3 separate regions of the Homo sapiens genome follow, and all the other regions are linked to region 2. The links come from fine-mapping of genetic effects on gene expression. A gene starts in region 2. Each other region holds a variant in brackets. All regions are shown on one strand. Distances are between the middles of the regions. Region 1 overlaps USP28 (ubiquitin specific peptidase 28). Region 2 holds the start of USP28 (ubiquitin specific peptidase 28). Region 3 overlaps CLDN25 (claudin 25).

The links. PIP is the estimated chance that this variant, and not a neighbour inherited with it, causes the effect.
Region 1: its variant is the best candidate, but not a certain one, in a credible set for the expression of USP28 in sigmoid colon (GTEx, PIP 0.56).
Region 3: its variant is the best candidate, but not a certain one, in a credible set for the expression of USP28 in monocytes (Quach 2016, PIP 0.90).

What each region holds. Positions count from the first base shown.
Region 1 is chr11:113,800,154-113,804,394 of GRCh38, reverse strand. USP28 (ubiquitin specific peptidase 28) reads left to right here. Exons shown (of 26, transcript NM_001346252.4): 23 at 518-597; 24 at 1,114-1,237; 25 at 2,717-2,912. Among named protein-coding and RNA genes, the nearest start is that of CLDN25, 22 kb to the right of the region's middle. The variant G/A (reference allele first, on the strand shown) is at 1,911.
Region 2 is chr11:113,873,506-113,877,746 of GRCh38, reverse strand. It overlaps USP28 (ubiquitin specific peptidase 28), which reads left to right and starts at 2,175. Exons shown (of 26, transcript NM_001346252.4): 1 at 2,175-2,302. The coding sequence starts at 2,246. RefSeq lists enhancers at 955-1,616, 1,667-1,916, 1,906-2,200, 3,787-4,241 and silencers at 1,937-2,096, 2,117-2,476.
Region 3 is chr11:113,780,477-113,784,717 of GRCh38, reverse strand. It overlaps CLDN25 (claudin 25), which reads right to left. Exons shown (of 1, transcript NM_001101389.1): 1 at 4,233-4,241. The coding sequence ends at 4,233. Among named protein-coding and RNA genes, the nearest start is that of CLDN25, 2.8 kb to the right of the region's middle. The variant AT/T (reference allele first, on the strand shown) is at 2,018.

The sequences.
Region 1 (4,241 bases), 73 kb after region 2:
TGGTTTGTTTTAAATGATAAAGTTTTAAAAATACGCATTAAAATACATAGCTACACATGTTTTCAATTGCATCCCATGTAAAACAATGTTATGTACCACCCAAGGTGTATTCACCACACTTACTGAACTTGAACTTGCTCTGTATGACTAGAAATGTCCGTGTCCTTCCATATTTTCAATATCTGGATGGTTTTACCAGTCCTAAAGAGGTCATTCACTTAAGCTAGAGCTGAATATCTTTTACATAGCTGTTAGAAATTAGGATAAAATCCGAAGCTCGTAGGAAATAAGTACTTCTGTTACTCAAGTGAAAGGAACAGAACATTGAAAATTAAGGTCAGTGGTAGACTTTTATTTTAAATGTTGAGTAGGTTTTTATCTGAAAGCTTTTGTTTGTTATTTTTGTGGCTAGCCAGATGTGCTCAGTAAATATTTGTAATGAATTTAAAACTTAGATGGGAAGGACACTAACAATCTATTATGATCATGATTATTAATAATCGTCATTCTTTTTCAGAAGTGGCATGAAGATTATAGTTTGTTCCGAAAAGTGTCTGTGTATCTCCTAACAGGCCTAGAACTCTATCAAAAAGGAAAGTATGTTGGCCTTTTATTTTACCAAGATTATTAGTCAGGATGCTGTTCTCTGTAGATGCCTACCTGGGAATACTAAGAGTCACAGCCATGCATAACCTCCCTTGTCACATACACTAGTGTGCCTCTTCTCTTGCAGTGCTTTGGTTTTGCTCTAAACATCACACATGGTTTTTCATCCTTCAAATGATTAGATGTATTAGCTGCGAGATAATATTGTGCCAGGCTGTCTTTGTGATCAATGAAGATGAACTCAGAAAATGAATTTTTGAGTTGACATAGACCCTAGTGAGCATTTCTTGTTTTAGAGATGGGAAAACCTGAGGCCTAGGGAAGTTTCATATTTGCTTTGGATGGCTAGGCCAATTTGTAGAAGAGATGAGACTGGCTACGGTCTTTGGTCCTTCACTTTTTCAGAATTGCAGCCAAGTAGGTTCTTGAAATGGGGAAAAGTGAGGTCTAAGCCCTAGATTTTAGTAAAAGAGCACTCAGCTGTTGTTTATCTCCCATTTTTCTAAGGTACCAAGAGGCACTTTCCTACCTGGTATATGCCTACCAGAGCAATGCTGCCCTGCTGATGAAGGGGCCCCGCCGGGGGGTCAAAGAATCCGTGATTGCTTTATACCGAAGAAAATGCCTTCTGGTTTGTACTGTTTGTAAAGCCTTAAGGTTTTTTTGTTGTTTACCTCTGCTCCTTGAAGCCAGGAAAATATATGGCTTTCAAAACAGACTATCTCCAACAGGTTGTAGATTTCCCCCCAAAATTCTCATGAACAGTTTTACATTGGAACAGGTTTTTTTTCAGTTACTTTTAGTGAATGTCATTCTTCTTCAATGATAACTGATAGAAGTTAAGATGAGAATCAGTCATCCCTCTGTGTGCCCTTCATGTATGCCTGCATTATAGATTTTATCACATTGCTTTCCTACTAGGTTGTAAATTCCTTGAGCTCAGATCCTTTTCTCACTCAGCCATTTCCTCTGTGCCTGTCATGTAGGAACCATGTAATAAATGTGTGTGGAAGGAATGCAGCATTTTTTCCATGTTCACATTTAAGCTGGTAGACTTAAAGTTTTAGTGACTTCTGACACTCCATTTTTTTAAAATAAAGGTAGGAACTGTAAGAATTGGTCCTGCTGTTCTGATAACATCATTGTCACATACTAGTGAAGACTAACTCTCTCCTGGCCTGATTTGCACTGTATAACTACATGGAAAGGCAGACCTACATCCCCTTGCCTCCCCAGGGGTTTATGTGATGTGTGTCCTTTGGAGAACTGTAAAGGGGTGGCCTGCCTTCAGAGTGTGGGCTTGT[G/A]TGTGTTTTCACCAATACCCAGCAAATTTGCCCTTCACAGAAGTCAGGCCAATATTTCTACCACTGCCTTTACCTTGTTCATACCGAATGGGTGAGATTAAGTCATGACATATACTCAATAGCTTTATTTTCTGATTTATACTTTGACATCTGTATTAGTTATAGGTGTGGCAGGGCCACTTTGAAGCTGAAAAGGGATCTTGTTGGTTTGATGGATCTGAATTTTATTAGAGCCATGTTTTTATATTTTAAATCACCAAATAGATTGACATTTTGAATATCCTACTCAGCTTCTGAAGTAATGCAATTATAGGGATTTAGACTCTTTCCATTATTGAGTCCCAACCCCTAGTGTGCATCAGAATCATATAGGGAGCTTTCAGACAGTCGTGAAGCTCAGGCCTCTCCCTAGCAATTAAACCAGAATCCCTGGGAAGGGCCCTGGGCATCAGTGTGTCTTCTGCAGGTGATTCTGATGCTCAGAGGAGATAGACAACCAGTGAACAGGTCTTTGGTTGAAACAGGTGTTAAGCATGACCTTGACTTACAAGTTTAGGCCAATGGGTCATAAACTTTACAGCATTAGAATCACTTTGGGAGCTTTCATAAAATCCCAGTGTCCCGGTCATCTAAACACTAATTAAATCAGCTTATCAGAAGTGGGAACCAGGCATCAGTAGTTTTTAAAGATCCCTAAGTACATCCAATGTGCAGTAAAGTTTGGGAACCACTTGTTTAGACTGTTATTAAAGAGATATTTATCTTTTTCAGACTCTTCCCCACCTAATTCTACCTTTTATCTGTAGGAGCTGAATGCCAAAGCAGCTTCTCTTTTTGAAACAAATGATGATCACTCCGTAACTGAGGGCATTAATGTGATGAATGAACTGATCATCCCCTGCATTCACCTTATCATTAATAATGACATTTCCAAGGATGATCTGGATGCCATTGAGGTCATGAGAAACCATTGGTGCTCTTACCTTGGGCAAGATATTGCAGGTATATGCTCTTGGTAATAATATTCTGAGGTTTTGAGAATTGTAGAAATTTCAGTGTTCTCACTTGATAGCACTGGTTGCCAAACCTTTTTAAGGAATTGGAACCTTCTAGCATATAAGTAAATTAAAAATGGATCTGCTCTATTGAAACAAGAGGAGGGAGCCTGGGCCTCTGCCCCTCTTAACCTCCCTTTAGCTTCCCCATGACTGCCAAATCACCTCCATGGGCAACCAACAAGCCTGGTTTGAAAAAAGTCACTGCTCTCCAGGAATGTCAGACTTCCATTACTCTCTCATGTGCCAAAAGATGAACTCTTTTATAGTTTAAAAATCAAAATCTGACTGGGTGCAGTGGCTCACACCTGTAATCCCAGCACTTTCAGAGGCCGAGGTGGGCAGATCACCTGAGGCCAGGAGTTCAAGACCAAGTCTGGCCAACAAGGCGAAACCCCATCTCTACTAAAAATACAAAAATTAGCTAGGTGTGGTCATGGGCGCCTGTAATCCCAGCTACTCGGGAGGCTGAGGCAGGAGAATCACTTGAACCTGGGCAGCGGAGTTTGCAATGAGCCGAGATAGCACCAGTGCAATCCAGCCTGGGCCACGGAATGAGACTCCATATCCAAAAAAAAAAAAAAAAAATCATGCAGAGTATGGTTATGGGAGGGGTGCCTTGATGAATTTTTTCTGTGGCTTGAAGTTATATAGCATATTAACTATGATGACTTCAAGATTAATTAGTGGACTGTCCTTGCTTGTTTAAAGCATCTTAAGGAGGGAATGTAAAGCTGGTTGTTTTTAGGTGAGTTCAGTAGACTTGGAAAATTGTTATATATTCTGATATGAATCCTCTTTGTTAGGTTCTCACTGACATAGAGATACTCTATTGATGGGGCTAGGCACAGTGGCTGACACTTGTAGTCCCAGCACTTTGGGAGGCCAAGGTGGGTGGCTCACTTGAGCCCAGGAGTTTGAGACCAGCCTGGGCAACATAGTGAGACCCTGCCTCTACAAAAAATGAAAACTTAGCTGGGTATAGTGTAGTTCTAGCTACTCAGGAGCCTGAGGTGAGAGGATTGCTTGAGTCTGGGAGGCCGAGGCTACAGTGACCCAAGATCATACCACTGCACTCCAGCTTGGAGTGAGACCCTATCTTTAAAAAACAAACAAAACAAAAAAGGCCGGGCGCAGTGGCTCACGCCTGTAGTCCCAGCGCTTTGGGAGGCTGAGGTGGGCGGATCACGAGGTCAGGAGATGGAGACCATCCTGGCTCACATGGTGAAACCCCGTCTCTACTAAAAATACAAAAAATTAGCCGGGTGTGGTGGCG
Region 2 (4,241 bases):
GCTCAGGTAATTCTTTATGGCAGTGTGAGAACAGACTAATACAAAGGATTATAGGTTTTGACAGCACTTACACACAATAAACATGCAATTTCCTAAAATGAATGTGTAAAGACAAATAAGGGTTGCTCCAGAGACATGGTAAATAAAGCATTCTAGCAGTGTAGAAATAGGCAATGCTGTAAATAAGCTAGACTCAGAAATCAATGTGGGCTGGGCGTGGTGACTCATGTCTGTAATCCCCAAATTTTGGGAGGCCAAGGCAGGAGGATTGCTTGAGACCAGAAGTTTGAGACCATCCTGGGCAACACAGTGAGATCCCATCTCCATAAAAAAGACACAAAAATTAGTTGGGCATGGCACATGCATGAAGTCCCTGCTGCTTCAGAGGCTGAGGCAGTTGGACTGCTTGAGCCCAGGAATTCAAGGCTGCAGTGAGCCATGATCTCACTACTGTATTTCAGTCTGGGTGACAGAGTGAGACCCTGTCTCAAAAAAAAAAAAAAAAAAAAAGAAAACCAGCATCAACCTGAAATCAACCTGTTCTACAGTGACACCCAGGTTGAGGCCATAAACACAGTCACTCATGAGGAAAGGAAAAATGGCAGAGCCACATACATAAAATGTCCTACTACTCGCAGACACAAACACAGTCAGCCTGTTGAATGTGGAAGATTCCAAGTTAGTATCACCGCAGCCATGCCAATCTGCCAGTTAATCTGCCAGGGGAAGCGGATCCCTGTATCTCCAGGTGGTGGAAGTTGCAGGAGTCCTAGTTCAGGCCTCAGAGAGTAATCTGGCCTCTCCTGGGAGCTGCACCTGACCTGTACCTGTTTCCTTTTGTCAAAAACTGCGCCCGCATGCAGACTAGGGAGGCCTGCAGGTGAAACATAACAATCCCAGCGACAACAATGCCAGGAGTATAGGAAAGGCCACCGTCCATGTTAAATTCACACTTAAAAGTGTAGCTTGAGAGTCAGACCAGACCAGGGCAAGGGTGTAGGTGCTACTCTTAAAAGACGCGCTTCCACACTCAGCCTCTACGCAGATTTGGGACACCCAGCAGCCTGTCAAGTGGGTTTGCCATCATAACACATTTGTATCTTAAATGTGAAACATGGTTCAGTAATCACAATTCCCACACAGTTGTTGAAAATACAATTCAGGCCTGGCGCGGTGGCTCACGCCTATAATCCCAGCATTATGGAAGGCCGAGACGGGCGGATCACCTGAGGTCAGGAATTCGAGGCCAGCCTGGGCAACATGGTGAAACCCTGGGTGTGGTACAGCGTGCCTGTAATCCCAGCTACTCAGGAGAATCGCTTGAACCCAGGAGGCGGAAGTTGCAGTGAGCCGAGACCGTGCGGCTGCACTCCAGCTTGAGGGGACAGAGTGAGACTCCGTCTCAAAAAAAAAGAAAAAAAAAAAAACAAACCGAAACCAACCAAACAAAAAACAATTCAATAGGAGCACCTGGTCTTTTAACATGAAATCGTAAATATCTGGCTCAAACGTAACAAAGTAACACAAAATTTTAGTTTGAACTTCTGAAAATCGAAAATGGAAAAACTGCAATTTTCCTTATCATGCCCAGGTTAAGAGCATCAGGGTTAAGGGCACCAAGCGGGACACCCATGAACGGAGGCTTTGGTCCGTTTGGTTAGCTTTAGACAAGCGACTGCATTCATCCTCCTTCTCTCCTTAAAGATGGTGAACACTTCTTCATGTCATTGGAGTTGGAAATGGCTACAAAGCCTGATGGGAAATCCTTTATTCCACGGTCATTCGGCAGTTTCCCACGGCGGGGGAACAGTTTTAACTCGCCCGTGGGGAGGGTGGAGCCGGAGGTCAGTCCTACAAATGAGGTTTTGAGGGCAGAGAGCGGAGAAGACTCAGGAACGCGGCTCCCAGGATTCGCAAACCCAGTTCCCGGACACTGGCAGCGCGGCCCGCAGCCTCCACCGGCTGTGAAGCTGACCAACAGCGACAGGCGGGGCCGGGATCACGTGACCGACGTCTGGTCAGCCGGGCGTGCGCGGGAGCACGCAGAACTGTTCGGCCCCGGGCCGCGCGCCTTGCGTGCGCGCGCATGCCGGGGGCGGGGCATGTGGGCCAAGCCTCCGGCGCGCGCTGCGGGCGGGGGCGGGACGGAGCGGGGTGGAGGGCGGGGGCGGGGCCTAGTCCTGAGAGGCTGGGCCGGCGGCGGCTGCGGCGGGAGACCGGTGACCCGCGGCTGGGCGCCTCGGCCATGACTGCGGAGCTGCAGCAGGACGACGCGGCCGGCGCGGCAGACGGCCACGGCTCGGTGGGCTCCGCGGCGGCGAGCGGGAGCTGGGGGCGGGCTCCAGGCCCTGAGGGGAGCGTGCGGGGCCTGCAGGGCTGCGGGTTGCGGGCTGCGGAGGGCGCCCCGGCCGGGCGGGACAGGGGGTGCGCCCGCCAGCGTGGGTGAGAAGGCCAAGGGCTCTGCGGGGCTCGGGCCGCGGAGATTGAGGACTGCATCTTCGCGTCCGTGGGCGAGCTGAAGTTGTAGGGGGATTTCCAGATTTTGGAAAACCAAATATAAAGGGCTGGACGTGGGGTTCTCCGCCGCAGGGATCAGTAAGGTGAGCCCTCCTGGGCCCCGTCCGGGGTGAGAAACTTCCGAAAGCGGCAGCGTTGGTTGGTTTTGTTTTGCTTTGACTTTTAAATCAGTTTTATGGCGGCGTTTTTAAAAGGTTAAAGCAGACCGAAGTTATCTCACTTAAAGTCCGGAATTAATCACCGTCTTCTATAAGACCAGGGGTCCCAGTTACCACCACTTCCCTCCCTCCCAACCCGGCTTTAAAAACAAAACAGCGCAGCCTCCCCAATTATTGCCTTCATCGCTCTAGATTTTTAAGGAGGGGGAGGAGCTGCGTGATGAATAGAAAGTCTACTGATGATGATCTCCTGTTCCCAATGTCTAAGAAGATTGAAATCAATATAAGGACTTCTGATCTAAGAATCTGGTGAGAGTGAAAGAACCCTGGTTTGAGAGAAAAGCTAATGTCTGTATGAAGAAACTTGGGAAGAGGGCAATTTGAGCATGTCTTCTAGTGTTACTTCGGAATGTTATAACTTAACACCACCTCCTCACCCCTCAAGTACTGCACTTTTTCAAGAGAAAACGGGAAATCTGTGCCAGTTGTTCAAATACGAGTTTGGAGATGAGAAACTATATTTGTCGTACAAAGCTGGCAGACAGATACCCTCAGGTGAGAATCCTTTTATACCTTTTTACTCTTTTGTCTGGAAGGCCAGTAGTATTTAGCATGGAGACACTTTTTTTTTTTTTTTTTTTTTTTTTTCGACAGAGTCTCCCTCTGTTGCCTAGGCTGGAGTGCTGTGGCGCGATGTCGGCTCACTGCATCCTCCGCCTCACCCTCCTGAGTAGCTGGTATTACAGGTGCTTGCCACCGGCCCGGCTAATTTTTGTATTTTTAGTAGAGTCGGGGTTTCACCATATTGGTCAGGCTGGTCTCAAACTCCCGACTTAAGGTGATTCGCCCGCCTCGGCCTTCCAGAGTGCTGGGATTACAGGCGTGAGCCACCGCGCCCAGTCTGGACGCACTTTTTTTTTTTTTTTTTTTCCAGACGGAGTCTCACTTTGTCGCCCAGGCTGGGGTGCAGTGGCGCGATCTCGGCTCACTGCAACTTCCGTCTCCCGGGTTCAAGCGATTCTCCTGCCTCAGCCTCCCGAGTAGCTGGGACTACAGGCGCGTGCCACCACGCCCAGCTAATTTTTGTATTTTTAGTAGAGATGGGATTTCACTGTGTTGGCCAGGATGGTCTCGGTCTCTTGACCTCATGATCCGCCCGCCTCGGCCTCCCAAAGTGCTGGGATTACAGGCGTGAACCAGGGCGCCCAGCCTGGATGCGCTTTTTAAAACTCATGTAGAAAAAGATACTTCCAGGTCCTGGGCTCCGAAACGAAAGTATCATGCACTGACTTCTAATGGAAATATTGTTAGATGTTCACAAGTGCCTATTGAAATGTGTCAAGATTTTTCTCTGGCTTCAGAGGTCAGTTCTATTTGTTTTTAGCACAGTGATTTAAAAACATGGGAAAATTTTAGTTTGGAGACTATCATATTGATTTAGAGAAGAGACTATTTTAAGGGAGAGAGAAGTCATATTTAAATTTGTCGTGGCTCAGTCATTTAAGACCATGTGCCTATTAATCAGTGGCATCTTCATTTACCTCTGCCGCAGTTTGAGTAGTGACC
Region 3 (4,241 bases), 93 kb after region 2:
AATCCCTAAGTTATATTTTCCTCCACTACCTTGCACAATACTTCTGGCTTGAAATAGTGATTGATTAATGTTTCTTTCTCTTTCTGATACATATGACTACACACCTCTCCATGTGTAACCACAATAAAGAAATGTTTTTGATGTGAGAATAATCTGCCACAGATCTATATGACAAAAAGCTGTGTTGAAGTTATGATTTAATTAGTTCTATTTTTATTTCTCATTATTTTCCCCTTCAAAGCAGGTGGCTAACAACAGTGGCAGTTTTAGGTGAACAGCATCTCCTTCCTCAAACTCTTTCTCTAAATGTGGATTCCCACTAGACTGCAGATCACATTCCCTCTCAGGGAAGGACATGCTGTTGGCCACATGGCCAGTATGTCATCAAGAGTTTCTACCCACACCCATTTAAAAAATTCCTTTTGTCCTTTATAAAGAGAGTTGGGAAGACAGAATATTTTCTTAACAAATCTTTAGTGTCCATTTCTCTGCAGAGGAAGCCATAATCACTTGCTGATGAAAAAATATTAGCACCTGCAAATGCGGGATTCAGGTGAGGGCTGCAAGCCACCAGCAGGAGCAGGTGAGCCACCTGGCAACAAAGACCCTGTTTAAACCTCAACATAAGCACAAAGGAGGGTTTTATTTGACGGTCTTTGGTTTTTCCATCGACTTCAGTGAGAAGCTTTTTTTTTTGTTTTTTTTTTTTGAGACAGAGTCTTGCTCCGTCGCCCAGGCTGGAGTGCAATGGCGCGATCTCGGCTTGCTGCAACCTCTGCCTCAGCCTCCTGAGTAGCTGGGATTACAGGCACCTGCCATCATGCCCAGGTAATTTTTGTATTTTTATAGAGACAGGGTTTTACCGCGTTGGCCAGGCTGGTCTTGAACTCCTGACCTCAGGTGATCTGCCTGCCTCGTGCTGGGATTACAGGCATGAGCCACCACGCCTGGCCTTTGGCGAGAGTTTTTCCTTTGGTCTGGTAGATTGTCTAGGCAACCCATCCCATGAGGCCATAGGATAAGGTGAAGAAAGACTGCCATGGTGCCAAACCCTGGCTTCAAGTCTTGACTCAGTTAATTACTCACCATGGGCATGTCACCTAAATTCTCGGCATCTCATTCTCCTCAGTAGCAAAACTAATAATATCTGCTCTTCCAAAACTCAAAAACATTTCAAGATATGTTCAGTAAAACTACCAAAATTTGTAGAAGTGCTTTGTACACCTGCAAGCCCAACACAACCATGTGATAAGGAAATTTCACAGAGACAAGTCATTAGACAAAGGAGAGCAGGTTACTGTTGCAGTCAATTGGAAGCCAAGCTCCTGTTCCCGGACCACGTGCTTGGCTTCCCATGGTCCTGAGAATAGAGACTATGTTCCTTACTGAGGCCTACAAGGCCCTACAAGGTCTGGCTTCTTCCTACTTTGCCAGCTTCACCTTATGCGTCTTCATCTCCCCTCCTCATCTGGAACTGCTACCCACCCTTTATTGTTCAGCCAGTAATCGCTTCCTTTGAGTACTGATCCGTGAATCACTGACTAGGTTAAATCCCTCCTATTGCATGATTTTTTTATGTATATATATTTTTCTCTTTTTTACATTCATAAAGGTTGATTAAACTATTGGATGATCTTATAGAACCATGTCCCTTTCCAAATTTGTAAAGGTTGTCAAAGTTACTATTTACGTTTATTTGAGTGATTTTACATTAATATTTGTCTCCTGGCTGGGTGCGGTGGCTCACACCTATAATCCCAGCACTTTGGGAGGCCGAGGCGGGTGGATCACTTGAGGTCAGGAGTTGGAGACCAGCCTGACCATGGTGAAACCCTGTCTCTACTAAAAATACAAAATTAGTGGGGTGTGGTGGCACACACCTGTAATCCCAGCTACTTGGGAGGCTGAGGCAGGAGAATTGCTTGAGCCTGGGATGCGGAGTTTGTAGTGAGCCAAGATCGCACCATTGCACTCCAGCCTGGGCAAGAGCAAAACTCTGTCTCAAAAAAAAAAAAAA[AT/T]TATCTCCCTAATTTGCCTGAATGAGGGACAAGAATATATTTTGTCTTACCATTTTATACTGGTTCCTAGCACATGGTCAGTGCTCAATAAATATTTGTTAAGTGAGTGAATAAATGATCAGATGGATGAATAATAATGAAATTATTCTTTCATGTAGACCCTGGAAGGTCAAGAAAATGCTTAGATAATTGAGCCTCACCCCTGATTGAAACTTTGTCCAAAGAGCTTTGAAACTTTATTGAGAAGGAGTAGCTAATAAAACAGACATTGGAAACCATTTTCTGACTTACCAGACACAGAAAGCCAGAATACACCTTTGATGCAAACTGGCCCTTTGTACTCAGAGCTGTATTTGCCTAGGGATCATTTTGATTTGTGCGTGCCAAGTAGACATACACAAAAGGACAGGCATAAAAGGAGAAGGAGCTTTCTGGAGAAACTGTGACTTCAAGAGAAATCTGCTCTGGGTAAGAAGGTAAGAGTTGCAGAAGATGAAGTTGCACCTGTGCAGACTCCATTTCAGCAGGAAAAAAAAAATGGCATTTTTCTAAGGAGGGAACTGTCCTGGGCTACTTTGGCAAATTTTTTTACTCTTGTGTCATAGTCTGTGTATTCTTGCTTGAGCAATGGCTATCTCGTGATATTGGGGCTATTTTATCAGGAGGCGAGAGGCGTTGTGAGACCTCAGAGCTGAGATGACAAAGCACAGCACCAGCTTGGGGAGGGCGGAATGTCCCTGGTACTGTGAGGAATGCAGCACGCCTCTGAACCTGGAGAAGTGACCTACTTAGGGCATTAGGAGCCATCCCCTTTAGCTGCTCTCCTGAGGGAATTGTTGGCAGGGCCAATGGTGATTCTTGAACTGATTACAGGAGTGGAGGACAGGTGGCAGGGAGAGGAACAAGGTGGATGCTGCAGGATAATTGCAGCTGACAAACAGGTTTATGAGCAACAGGAGGCTCCTCCTTGAGGACCTGCAGAAATGCCAGAGGAAGACCTGAGGTGGGGTAGTCAGGAGAGAGCCTGCCATTGCAGGCAGAGCAAGCAAAGGAACTTAGGTTATCGTTATGGAAGGGACTTGATTTGTAGCCACAACCTGGGTAGGTCTGCTGACACTCAGGTTAAAATTTAAGAGGAGGCCAGAAGTTTGATAACAGCCTGGGCAATATAGCGAGACCCCATTTCTACAAAATATTTTAAAAATTAGCTGAGCTTGGTGGCTCATGCCTGTAGTCCCAGCTACTCAGGAGGCTGAGGCAGGAGGATCCCTTGAGCCTAATAAGAGTTTGAGGCTGCAGTGAGCTATGATCATGCAACTGCACTCCAGGCTGGGCAACAGAGTGAGACCCTGTCTCAAAAACAAAAACAAACAAACAAAAAAACACAGCAAAACAAAATTCAAGGAGTTTATACTGTGATTTTGCACTTGGTAAAAGACATTTCTGAGAAGCTACTTCTTTCATATACATGACCACATTGGGCAGTATTTGGACACAGTCATTCTAAGGTAATCACTGGGTCCCAGTTTGCTTGGGACTTTCCTAGTTTTAGCACCAAAAGTACCTTGTTCTGGGCAAACCAGGAGGGTTGGTCACCCTACCACTCACTCAGACTGACTGTTAACCTTCAGGTGGGGAAGACAGAGTAGACTGCTCATCGCCTCACAATGTAGCAGAAACAAGCCTATGTCTCTCCTTTGGGATATTAAGGATCTATAAAACAGCAAAGGTATATTGTGAAGTTGTCTTTCAAATGGTACACCTGAGGCTGAAAATGGACACAAAGAGAATTTCTGTCCTAAGATGCTGTTCTGGAACAATAATTCATTTTCCTTTGCCAAGGTACCTTCTTCAAGTTTTATTTTTGTAACCTATTCAGAACAGTAAGTGCCTCTTCACACTAGATTTTCTCTGATGGTTGCAATTTTGTAATATATTTTTCCTTAGTAATAAAAGAATCAAATATGTAATTAAGGTTATGAGTTTTTTAAAGCATTTTTATCTAAATAAAATCTCAAATCAGAAAAATACATTTGTTAGACACTGTGCCCTGATTTTTTATTCTGAAATGAGGACTACCATATCATCAAGACAATCACATCCTTGATAAGTGGGACAGTGACCACCAGCCCCAAAATGAAGCAAACAAACCTAGAGTGAGAAAGGAGTCTACAGACATTCCTTTATTCCAGAGATCCTTGGCAGAAGCCAGTCCTAGATGAC